2 separate regions of the Homo sapiens genome follow, and region 2 is linked to region 1. The links come from fine-mapping of genetic effects on gene expression. A gene starts in region 1. The other region holds a variant in brackets. All regions are shown on one strand. Distances are from middle to middle. Region 1 holds the start of MRPL44 (mitochondrial ribosomal protein L44). Region 2 overlaps WDFY1 (WD repeat and FYVE domain containing 1).

The links. PIP is the estimated chance that this variant, and not a neighbour inherited with it, causes the effect.
Region 2: its variant is the best candidate, but not a certain one, in a credible set for the expression of MRPL44 in whole blood (INTERVAL, PIP 0.53).

What each region holds. Positions count from the first base shown.
Region 1 is chr2:223,954,492-223,959,878 of GRCh38, forward strand. MRPL44 (mitochondrial ribosomal protein L44) reads left to right here and starts at 2,972. Exons shown (of 4, transcript NM_022915.5): 1 at 2,972-3,160; 2 at 5,043-5,387. The coding sequence starts at 2,982. RefSeq lists a silencer at 2,747-2,816 and an enhancer at 2,887-3,056.
Region 2 is chr2:223,920,576-223,925,962 of GRCh38, forward strand. The region is part of intron 1 of WDFY1 (WD repeat and FYVE domain containing 1); the gene reads right to left. It also overlaps the pseudogene GTF3AP3. Among named protein-coding and RNA genes, the nearest start is that of WDFY1, 22 kb to the right of the region's middle. RefSeq lists an enhancer at 1,379-1,879. The variant T/C (reference allele first, on the strand shown) is at 2,412.

The DNA.
Region 1 (5,387 bases):
TGCAGTCAAAGCGCTGGCCAGTAGGCAGTCATCTGAAAGTCTGACTGGGAGTGGAGGATCCAATTCTAAGACAGCTCATTCATTCACATGGCTGTTAGCGGGAGGCCTCAGCTACTCATCACATAAGCCTTTCCACATAGTTTCTTAGGCAACATCATAACATAGCAGCTGACTTCCTGACAGGAGACTAATCCAAGAAATACAAGGTATCTGACCAAAATGGAAGCTATGATGTATTTTATTACCTAACCCCAGAATTGATAAAAACATCCATGGTCTATTGGTTACACAGACTAATCCCAGCACAATGTGAGAGGGGAATGTACAAGGGTGTAAGTACCAGGAGGTGGGGCTTGTTGAGAGCCATCTTGCTGGCCGCTAACACACCAAAAAAGTTTTGCTTCCATAATTATGAATTAAAGTGTTTATAACAGAATTATACTAACATTGATGCATTTTTTTTGAGAAAATGTTTTCTGGAATAAGCTCCATGAAACCAATTAAATTTCTTGATCAATTTTCTATACAGCACAAGTATCCTATTTCTAATTGTATTTTCATGTTTCTATTGCTTAATGTATTTTCATGAATTTTTTTCCACATTTATTTCCTAAGATGTTATTTGTTGCTCAGGTTTACTAAGGCTTTTTGCTAATCAGTTTTACTATCATGAGTTTTCTGTTGCAGCTTTTAGATCTATCAAGTCAAATTTTCCATCAAGTCAAATTTTCCAAAGCTAGGTTGAACAGATGTAACTTTGGTGAAGACTGATTCTATATCGATATTTATCAGTAACTCCAATTTTGTATTTTGAACAGTTTTAACTATAGTAATTTTCATTCTATGGTAATTATTTCTGTCTGTAATTTTCCTTGTGAGTTGGATTAAAGGCCACTATTTGGTAGTTATTCCTTAGCTAATCTATGAAGTAGTGGTGAGTAATCCCAGGTGGTTCAGAATTGCTTGATTGTTCAGGAAGGTCCTATAGCAGAGCTTACTAACTTTGTTATCCATCTTTCTGTGCCCCGTATTCCAGCTGCCTTCACCATCATTGAAGGAATATATAAGCAATATCCCTGGCATCAAAACACAAAAGGTTGTGTTCCCCAAGGGTTAAAGTGAACCCTCAATCGCCTCACCTCCTCTTCCTAAGTGTGACTTTTCCCCACCCTTCCACCTGACCTTAACCCAATGAAAACTCGAAAGTTGTTGACATCTGTGAGCTTTGATCAAATTAGGGCTAACAGCAGGTTAAAGGAAAAATCAGGTTTTTGAGGGCTGAAAAACACATTGGCCTTTTTCTTCCTTAAAGTTTTCTGAGCCTGGATCCTGGAACCAAGTCCTCCTCCTATTATGTGTTTATTGAATAAATAGACAAATGTATGAGCAGATTTTAAAAAACTGGTTAATTCCTAAGTTCCATGAAGGGCATTAGTAGAAGAAATCTTTTGAGGACCTACATTTTTTTAATCTGCAAATGATGCTCTCGTTGTTGTATGACTGAGAAACTCTCAACACAGAGACACCTCATTTTAACTTAACATGATTGTGCTACAACTGGCTTAGATTATTTTTCCTAATAAATGAAATTCTACAGAAATGACAGTTCCCTGCATTTTCTCCTAATCCATTTATTGGATTGATGTTCCATGAATTTTCAATACTTTACATACATTGAAACAAGAAGGTCAATCGTAACCTCCTTTCACCCCTTCTTGGAGAATTTCCTTCAACCAGAAATCCATCAGTTTGTTTTTTGGTGTGTGCTCAGCCCCTCTTTTGCTCTCTCCCTCCCCAAAGGGAACCCTTTTATAAGCTGAGATGAACCATTTAGATTCTCCCTTTTGAAATGGTCAAGCTGAGAAACCCAAATTGAGTTCTATGATCCTGGCACTGAAGATTCTCGGGCTAAGTCATAACATGCTTTGTGGTCTGTGTTTCAGAGAGATGAATGTAGGTGAGCTGTGTCTGGGGAAGGGAGGAAGGTACCAGGCCAATTACACTAACCACGGAAAGAGGTGAGGAGAGCCACCAGGTACCTGCAGTGGAAATAAATGGAAAAAGCACTTGGTGGAAACTGCACCGAAGAGGGGGTTTGTCGAAACAAAAACAATCAAAGACATAGGAGTTCAATCTGGGTGACTGCTGGGGACACAGATGCCTTTAACAAAGAGATCACAGAAAGCATTGCCCCTTTGAGGGTCTAGATGTTCAGCAGGCAACTCAAAACTGGGAATTCAAACAAGCCTCCCTTTGTGACTTAATATGTTCTTTTAAAAATTGTACTGTATTAACAGTTTGGTAGGAAAGCAATAGAATTACATTGTTAAAGAGTGTTAACATAAAGAAGGAAGAAACTGTAATTCCCCTATTACCGTTTTATGTTTTTTTCCAGTCATTTTCCGGATGTTTAAAAATATGTACTATTAGATTGCTTTTAAAGAAAAATTTTAATTTTGGATAAGCCAACATTTCTGAGTCTAGGGTTTCCAAAACTAAGGCTTTTGGAGGCGTGCTGGGTCAAAAATAGAAGCTCGGTAAATACTTGCTCAGTAGTGGCCTAGAACACTAAATATAAATTAAAAATGTTTTCTTTTTTTGAGGATTTAAATGTTTCCTTAACCTGAAAGCGAAACAGATTTTTGTTTGTTTTGCTGTAACGAGAGAGGAAGGAACAAGAGAGTGACAGGGTGAAGCAACTTCTCCCAGAAACTTTTGGGCGCAAACGCCCTCAAGTCCGGATCATTGGAAAGTAACTCGAAGAGAGGAGAGAACTAGCGCAAGCGTAGCCTCAAGGCGGCCGCAATCACCCCGCCCCGGGGCTGTCTCCGCCCCTGCCCTCTCTCAGTCGCCCCGCCCCGGGGGCTGTCTCCGCCCCAGCCTTCTCTTCGCGTTCCGCGTTCCGGGTTCCGGGGGAAGTGTGTTACGGGGACACTGGCCCGACTACTTTCGTTCCGTCTTCCATCGTTTTCTCTCGTGCAATGGCGTCCGGGCTGGTAAGATTGCTGCAGCAGGGACATCGCTGCCTCCTGGCTCCAGTCGCCCCCAAGCTGGTCCCTCCGGTTCGGGGAGTGAAGAAGGGATTCCGCGCCGCCTTCCGCTTCCAGAAGGAGTTAGAGCGGCAGCGCCTTCTGCGGTGCCCGCCGCCGCCCGTGCGCCGGTAGGAGCCACCTCGGGAAGAGGTCTCAGGGTGGCGGTCGCAGACACTGGGTCTTCTTCCCGCGGCGTCGTGTCTGCGGCTGATGCGCCCCTGGGTTAAGCCTTAGGAAGTTTGCGATGGAGACACCCGTGAGCTGTGGGCGCGGGGCCTGAGGCAAAAAAAATGGATTTGTGCCGCGGGCGGTAGAGCTTCGGGCTGTTCCCGACGTTTTGAAACTACCATTTAGGATTTTGGCTACTGAAAATTGGGAGAAATGGGGCTAACTGGAGGGTCTTCCTTATGTGGACTTGGATGTTGTAGTCCCCGTTTGTAATGCCTGAGAATTCCGATAAGCGGGAAGAAAGCAGCCCACAGCATCGTAAATTAAGGAGAAAAAAAATTAATCTACAACCTGAATTCTGCTGTCTAGAGTAAAAGGAAAAAAAGTTAGCTTTAGATTTTTGCCCTAATTAATGCTGTTCTGGTAACAGGTTTGGCAGAGAGAGACACAGGTTTTTATAGCTTCAAACCAGATCATACTTTACATAATTTAAATTCCTTCATCTTGCTTTTTCTCTTTAATAATGTGTGTTTGACATGTTGTCATGGTATTACAAAGATATGTACCTCACTCTTTTTTATGGCTCTGTATATATGGGCCTATGAGCTCCATATTATTGCCATTAAAACCTATGTAACAGCGCGTAAAGGGGACGCATGTGTAGTATGAAATTTTGAAAGCTATTAGTACTTTAACATTGCCCTCCAAAAAATGTTGATCCACTTTGTACTCCTACCAGTAGGAACGGTCTTCTAACAGAGAAGATTATAGCAAAAAATAAAATCTCTTCTTAATTCCCATTCCCTTGTTTATTATAAGATTAAGTATTTTAGGCTCTCAAAGGTGGAAGAAACTTTATGGGTTGGACAGATTATATAGGTGTATATGTTATATGTATATCTTACGACTTTCAACCTAGGTTTTCATACTTTGCTTCCCTTTGTTTCTTAAAGGGGTTTTATATTGTGTTACGTATAAGTAATCCAGAGATGACTTAAAGTATACAGGAGGATGTGCATAGGTTATATGCAGATACAGGTATACCTCATACATATTGTAGGGTTGGTTCTAGACCACGACAATAAAACGAGTCACATGACTTTTTTAGTTTCCCAGTGTATACCTAAGTTATGTTTATACTATTCTGTAGTTTATTAAGTGTACAGTAGTAGTGTCTAAAAAGCAATATATGTACCTTAATTTAAAATACTTTATTGCTAAAAAATGGTAACACAGAGACACAAAGTGAGCACATGCAGAATTGCTACAGACCTTCAGTTTGTAAAAATAAAATGCAATAAATCTGTGAAGCACAATAGACCGAAGTACAGTGAAACGAAGTGTGCCTGTACTACACCATTTATATGAGAGACTTGAGCATCCATGAATTTCAGTATCCAGGAGAGTCCTTGGAACCAATCCCCTACAGATATTGAGGGATGACTGCAAATATAACATACTAGTGTTTATGGCTTGAATCTGTGAAATTAACATTTATGCTTCATACTTAGGTATAAAACATAGTATCATGGTTAGAGCAGAAATAAGGAACCTAAAAGTTAGGCTAATGGCTTGGTCTTTTATATTGAAGAACCAATTTCATGTGACAATTGGATCAAAGGGAAAATTAATCCAGTCATATATGTAGAATATAGCAAAGGACTGCCAGTATTTATCTGACTTTAGTCTTAACATTTAGAATATCAACCTGGCATTAAAAAGAAATATAACCTTCTTTCATTTCCTTTATATAATTAATAACATTACAACACAGTGAACAATTTTTATATCACAGTAACAGGTTGTTCTCTTTACCATCTCTTACTGTCTTTACATTTTCAGTTCAGAGAAGCCGAACTGGGATTACCATGCAGAAATACAAGCTTTTGGACATCGGTTACAGGAAAACTTTTCCTTAGATCTTCTCAAAACTGCATTTGTTAATAGCTGCTATATTAAAAGTGAGGAGGCCAAACGCCAACAACTTGGGATAGAGAAAGAAGCTGTTCTTCTGAATCTTAAAAGTAATCAAGAACTATCCGAACAAGGGACATCTTTTTCACAGACTTGCCTTACACAGTTTCTTGAAGACGAGTACCCAGACATGCCCACTGAAGGCATAAAAAATCTTGTTGACTTTCTCACTGGTGAGGAAGTCGTGTGTCACGTGGCTAGAAACTTGGCTGT
Region 2 (5,387 bases), 34 kb before region 1:
CACAGTCTCCTTTCAGGAGTAAGAGTGCCCTGTTGTGTGTGAACACGCCGGCTGTGGGAAACCTTGCAGGAAACCTTGCAATAAAACAAAGTCTCACCAGGCATGGCTGGTGCACGATCCTGAGGAGAAAATGGAGCTCAAAGTAAAACCATCTCGTGAAAAATGGAGTTTGGCCCTTGCCTCAGTGGATGCATCCCTCCTCAAGGGAAAAAGATGGGCAAGGCTTATCTTTGCTTAAAACAGAGAGTGGCTGAACCGTACGGAAGACAAGGTACTCTCGACAGTGGCTATCCTCGCCTTCAGCTAAGCATCACATCGCTTTGTTTACAGGACTGCGGACCAGTGGGCCTGGTTACCTTCCCTCAGAAGTCTGTTTTTCTTTATTAAAATCACTGATGTAAAACAACGACAAAAAATACAAGTCAAACTGATCAGAGACCAGAGGGACAATCAGAATAGTGGTTGCTTCTGGGGTAAGAGGAGGACTGAATGCAATCAGAAGAGAGAAAACTTTCTAGGGGAACATCAAGGCTCCGGGTGTTGGTAACCATGGATATATGTATTTGTTAGAACCTGTCCAACTCTACCCAAGATCTGTACACACTATTATATATGATTAAAAGTAAAACTAGTAGTTGGTCTTTATTTATCCAAACAAATAAGATGACCTAGCACCACAGTGAGATTAATGCTATTCTGTATGTGAACTGGATAGAAACAAGCCTTAGGGCTAACACAACTGGATTAATCCTTTAGATCCACCAACCAATTGATAGGAAATACAGAGGACATGGGAACATACTGAGCACCATTCAGCAAAGTCAAGACTGCAGGAAACTCCATAGAGAAATGACTCACTTTCTTCTACAAATAATTTGCAAGGGAAAAAAAAATAGAGAGGAAGAACAAACCTATGATTAAAGAGATTTTAGAGGTCTATCCAGCAATTAAAATAGGTAGACTTACTTAAATCCTAATTCAAACTAAAAGATATGTATAGATATTTGAGGATATTTTAAAGATTTTTTTTTTTTTGACAGGGTTTCGCTCCGTCACCCAGGGTGGAGTGCAGTGGTGTGATCACAGCTCACTGAAGCCTCGAACTCCTGGGCTCAAGCGATCCTCCCACCTCAGCCTCCTGAGCAGCTGGGACTACAGACGTGTACCACCACACCTGGCTGTTGCTCATTCCTTTGGGTGTGTTAATGGTGTCGCTGTTTGTTTTTTAAGAATTAAACGATAATTCCCATATATCACGTTTGCCATCCTCATTTGTCATCCTCAGCGTGACTACCACAGTCTAGGTCCCATCTTTCACACAGCAGTAGGCCTGCTCTCACAGGAGTAGTGGACTCTTGCCTCCCTCTGCTCCACCTCCAGTGTGCTGACCCCCAGCTACCTCTCCCAAGGAGCCGCCTGGATCACAGTGCCCCTATGCTCAGAACCCACCAGTGGTTATCTCAAATCCAGATTCAACTGACAACCTTAGCGCCTATGACTCCCCATCCCAGAGCCTGCATCCCAGTGAGCTGTCATCCTCACATTCCCTGAATACGTCCAGCTCAGGTTATGCCCTAAATCCACCTTCCTCCCCACCCTACCAAGAACTCTTCTCTCCAGACAGTGTTTTCTGAGCAGATCACAGGATGGATGCCATTTCAGCATAACTTCTTCATCTAAAAGAATCAGTGGATGCTTCTATCCAATGATGATCCTTAAACATGAACAGCCAATATATTATTGCAGTGAGTTGACTATATTCCATATTACTTAAATCAGAATGTTTATGGATACATTCCGACATAGGGGATGAAGCCAAAACCATTGAAATAAACAAGAGGCCAACTTCCTGCTAAGCATTAACTCTGTTCAAGGATTCTCCTCCACCTCCAAACACACAGTGACAAAGGCCAAGGCACCTGGAGATCAAGGATTCATGCAGCAGCACTTCACACTCACAGGCTTCATTCGTACAATCACAAAGTAAACCTGCCAGCTGCCTGTGTGTTCGGGTTTCTTAGGTCAAAGGAAGAACAGAATGCTGACATGTTCTAAAACTCTTCAAATCAATTCCAGCAATCTTAGGTCATGAATGTGTAGGTGGCTCAAAGGATCTAGTGGCATGTGCTCTTGCTCAGTGCTCATGGAAAGAAGGGCACAATTCAGAAATCAGAGAACTCTGCTGGGAGGAGAAAATCTTAAAGGTTGTCTCTTCCAACCAAGTATTTAACCTGGAAAAGTCTAATGTTAATTTCATACAGCTTTAGAATACTTAAACTAGCCCAAAGTCAAAATCGAACCTACTTAGATTCCAGCATTTTGAACACAGTATTACTTCCTTTGGAAGACAAACATCAGCATATAGTTTGGTTGGCACAAATTGGACCTATGCTGGGACCCATCTAATAAAC[T/C]AGGAAATTGTCAAGACTTCCACGATCTCTTAGGCTTTTTGTTTGAAAACTGTCGGTCACATCCCAGCTGAGAGAAGGCCCTCCTTGTCTGGGAATCAGGTTCCAAATGAGGCAACTGGCCTGGATGGTTGGCGCTACCTTTGTCTTTACACCTTCATCTGGCATTCCCTTCCATCTCTTTTCAAACCAGACCCTTCCTCTTCCAAGACTAAATCAAACCAAAGTTTAACCCTTAACACTATTGTACCCCAAGAACCTATTAAACAGAGATGCTCATTTCTATGAGTAATATACGAATGTATTTTGTATTATGTCCAGAATATTTACCAAATGGTTGTAAAAATAGTTTTAAGTTGGGCCACTTATTTAAAATACAACAAATTCCAGACTAAAAAATTACTATCCAGTAAATTGGAAGTAAAATCTACTATTCAGTAAGTTGAAAGCAACATAATAATAGTTTAGTAATATTTACAGGAGCAAACTATTTCAAAGTCTAGGATAATATTAATAAACTGTAATCCCAGCACTTTGGGAGGCCGAGGCGGGTGGATCACAAGGTCAGGAGATCGAGACCATCCTGGCTAACATGGTGAAACCCTGTCTCTACTAAAAATACAAAAAATTAGCCAGGCGTGGTGGCGGGCACCTGTAGTCCCAGCTACTCGGGAGGCTGAGGCAAGAGAATGGCATGAACCTGGGAGGCGGAGCTTGCAGTGAGCCGAGATCGCGCCACTGCACTCCAGCCTGGGCGACAGAGCAAGACTCCGTCTCAAAAAAAAAAAATAAATAAATAAACCGTCTAATCACTGAAGTGTCAAGATCAGATGGTATTATTTTTTGTATAAATCACAATATTTTCTGTCTAGATTGAATGTCTAAACCACTCTCTCCACTAAGATAAAACAGCTTATGTTTTCCTTTAATATTTTGACAATTTTACACCCACATAAACTCATCTTATGTTTTTCCTGCTGCTTATTCTGCCCATTTTTCTAATGGCTGGATTTTCTTTTATATTCCAGGACCACATCAATCTGGGGAAAAGAAATCTTTCCTTAAAACCACAACCTTAGAAACGTGTTCATTCTTTTCCAAGCTCTATTTTTAAGTTGTTTTAAAACAATAGTCTGATATTTTTCCAAAAGATCCTTAGAAAGGAAATGTGTCATTGCTTTCAGAGCCTAATAAATCTTTTCCAAACTTCTCCATGCTACCATTCCTGTGGAGGGCTTCTACCATCTATCTCCTCTGCACTTTTAGAGAAGCAAGGACTTGCATATAGCTGCAATATCTTCCAGGAACAGATGAGAAAAGGTATCTCCATATATGACTATGTTATACATATATAACTTACAGGGTATGCACGCCACTACCATCACTTTATTTATTTATTAAACAGAGTCTCACTCCATCACCCAGGCTGGAGCGGTATGGCACAAGTTCAGCTCACTGTAACCTCTGCCTCCTGGGTTCAAGCGATTCTCATGCCTCAGCCTCCCCAGCAGCTGAGATTACAGGCATGTGTCACCATGCCTGGCTAATTTTTGTATTTTTAGTACAGACAGGGTTTCACCATGTTGGCCAGGCTGGTCTTGGACTCCTGGCCTCAAGTGATCTGCCCGCCTCGGCCTCCCAAAGTGCTGGGATTACAGGTGTGAGCCACCGCACCTGGCCCCATGACTTTATTTGTTTATCATTGTTCAGCACTGTAGATGATTCATTTATTTTCCAAGTAAATAAAATTCCAAAATTGATTCTTTTTTATGCTAAATGTTTCAGATTAAAATGTTTTTAAAATGTACTGCTGTGCAGGGAAAGCAAAGGAACAACTCAAAACAATAACAAAATGCCACTTCTAGGGCTCTCATACTTCTTTGTCAGAATTGTAAATTAGAACTATTTGGCAAGAATTTTGCTCCAATATAGAGAGAAACAAATACACCTGCCCAATAATAATGACAACAACACTAATGATAAACTTTGATTAAGGAATTCCAGGCTTGGAAATTGGTTCTATAGAAATCATTTAATAGAATAAAAAAGGAACTACAAATTTAAAAAACTTCATATAAGCTTTATCCAAGGAGTAAAAATGGGGAAAATATGTTAAAGAATGAAATGGGTTAATGATAGAGTAATTCAATAGCTTATATAATCATTACAAATAGTTATGAAGTCCTGGAGCCCCAATAAAATGTTTATGAAATGGTCAGCTTTTTTGTTCCTAAAAAAAAAAAAAAAAAGCATAACACAGAGATTATTATAACCCTCAGAGATATTGCAGGTTTATCACAATAAAGCAAATGTCGCAACAAAGTGAGTCACACAAATTTTTGGTTTCCCATATGCAAGCTGTAGTTACACTATAGTCTGTTAAGTGTGCAGTAGCATTACATCTAAAAATCAATGTACATACCTTAGTTTTAAAATACTTTATTGCTAAAAAAAAGTTAACGATCATCTGAACCTTCAGCGAGGGGTAATCATTTTGCTGGTGGAGGGTCCTGCCTCAATGTTGATGCTGCTGATCCATCAGGATGGTTGTTGATGAAGGTTGGCGTGGCTGTGGCAACTTCTTAAAATAAGACAACCAAGAAGTTTGTTGCATCGATTGACTCTTCCTTTCCCAAAAGACTTCTCTGTAGCATGCAATGCAATTTAATAGCATTTTACCCATAATAGAACTTCTTTCAAAAGTGGAGTCAATCTTCTTAATGCCTGCTGCTCCTCCATCACCTAAGTTTATGGAATATTCTAAATCTTTTGCTGCCATTTCAACAATGTTCACCGCATCTTCATTAGATGTTGATTCCATCTCAAGAAACCACTTTCTTTGCTCATCCATATGAAACTCTTTAAACATTCAGCTTTTATCATGAGATTACAACAATTCAGTCACATCTATATGTTCCACTTCTAATTCTAATTCTCTTGCTATTTCCACATCTGCAGTTACTGAAGGCTTGAACCCCT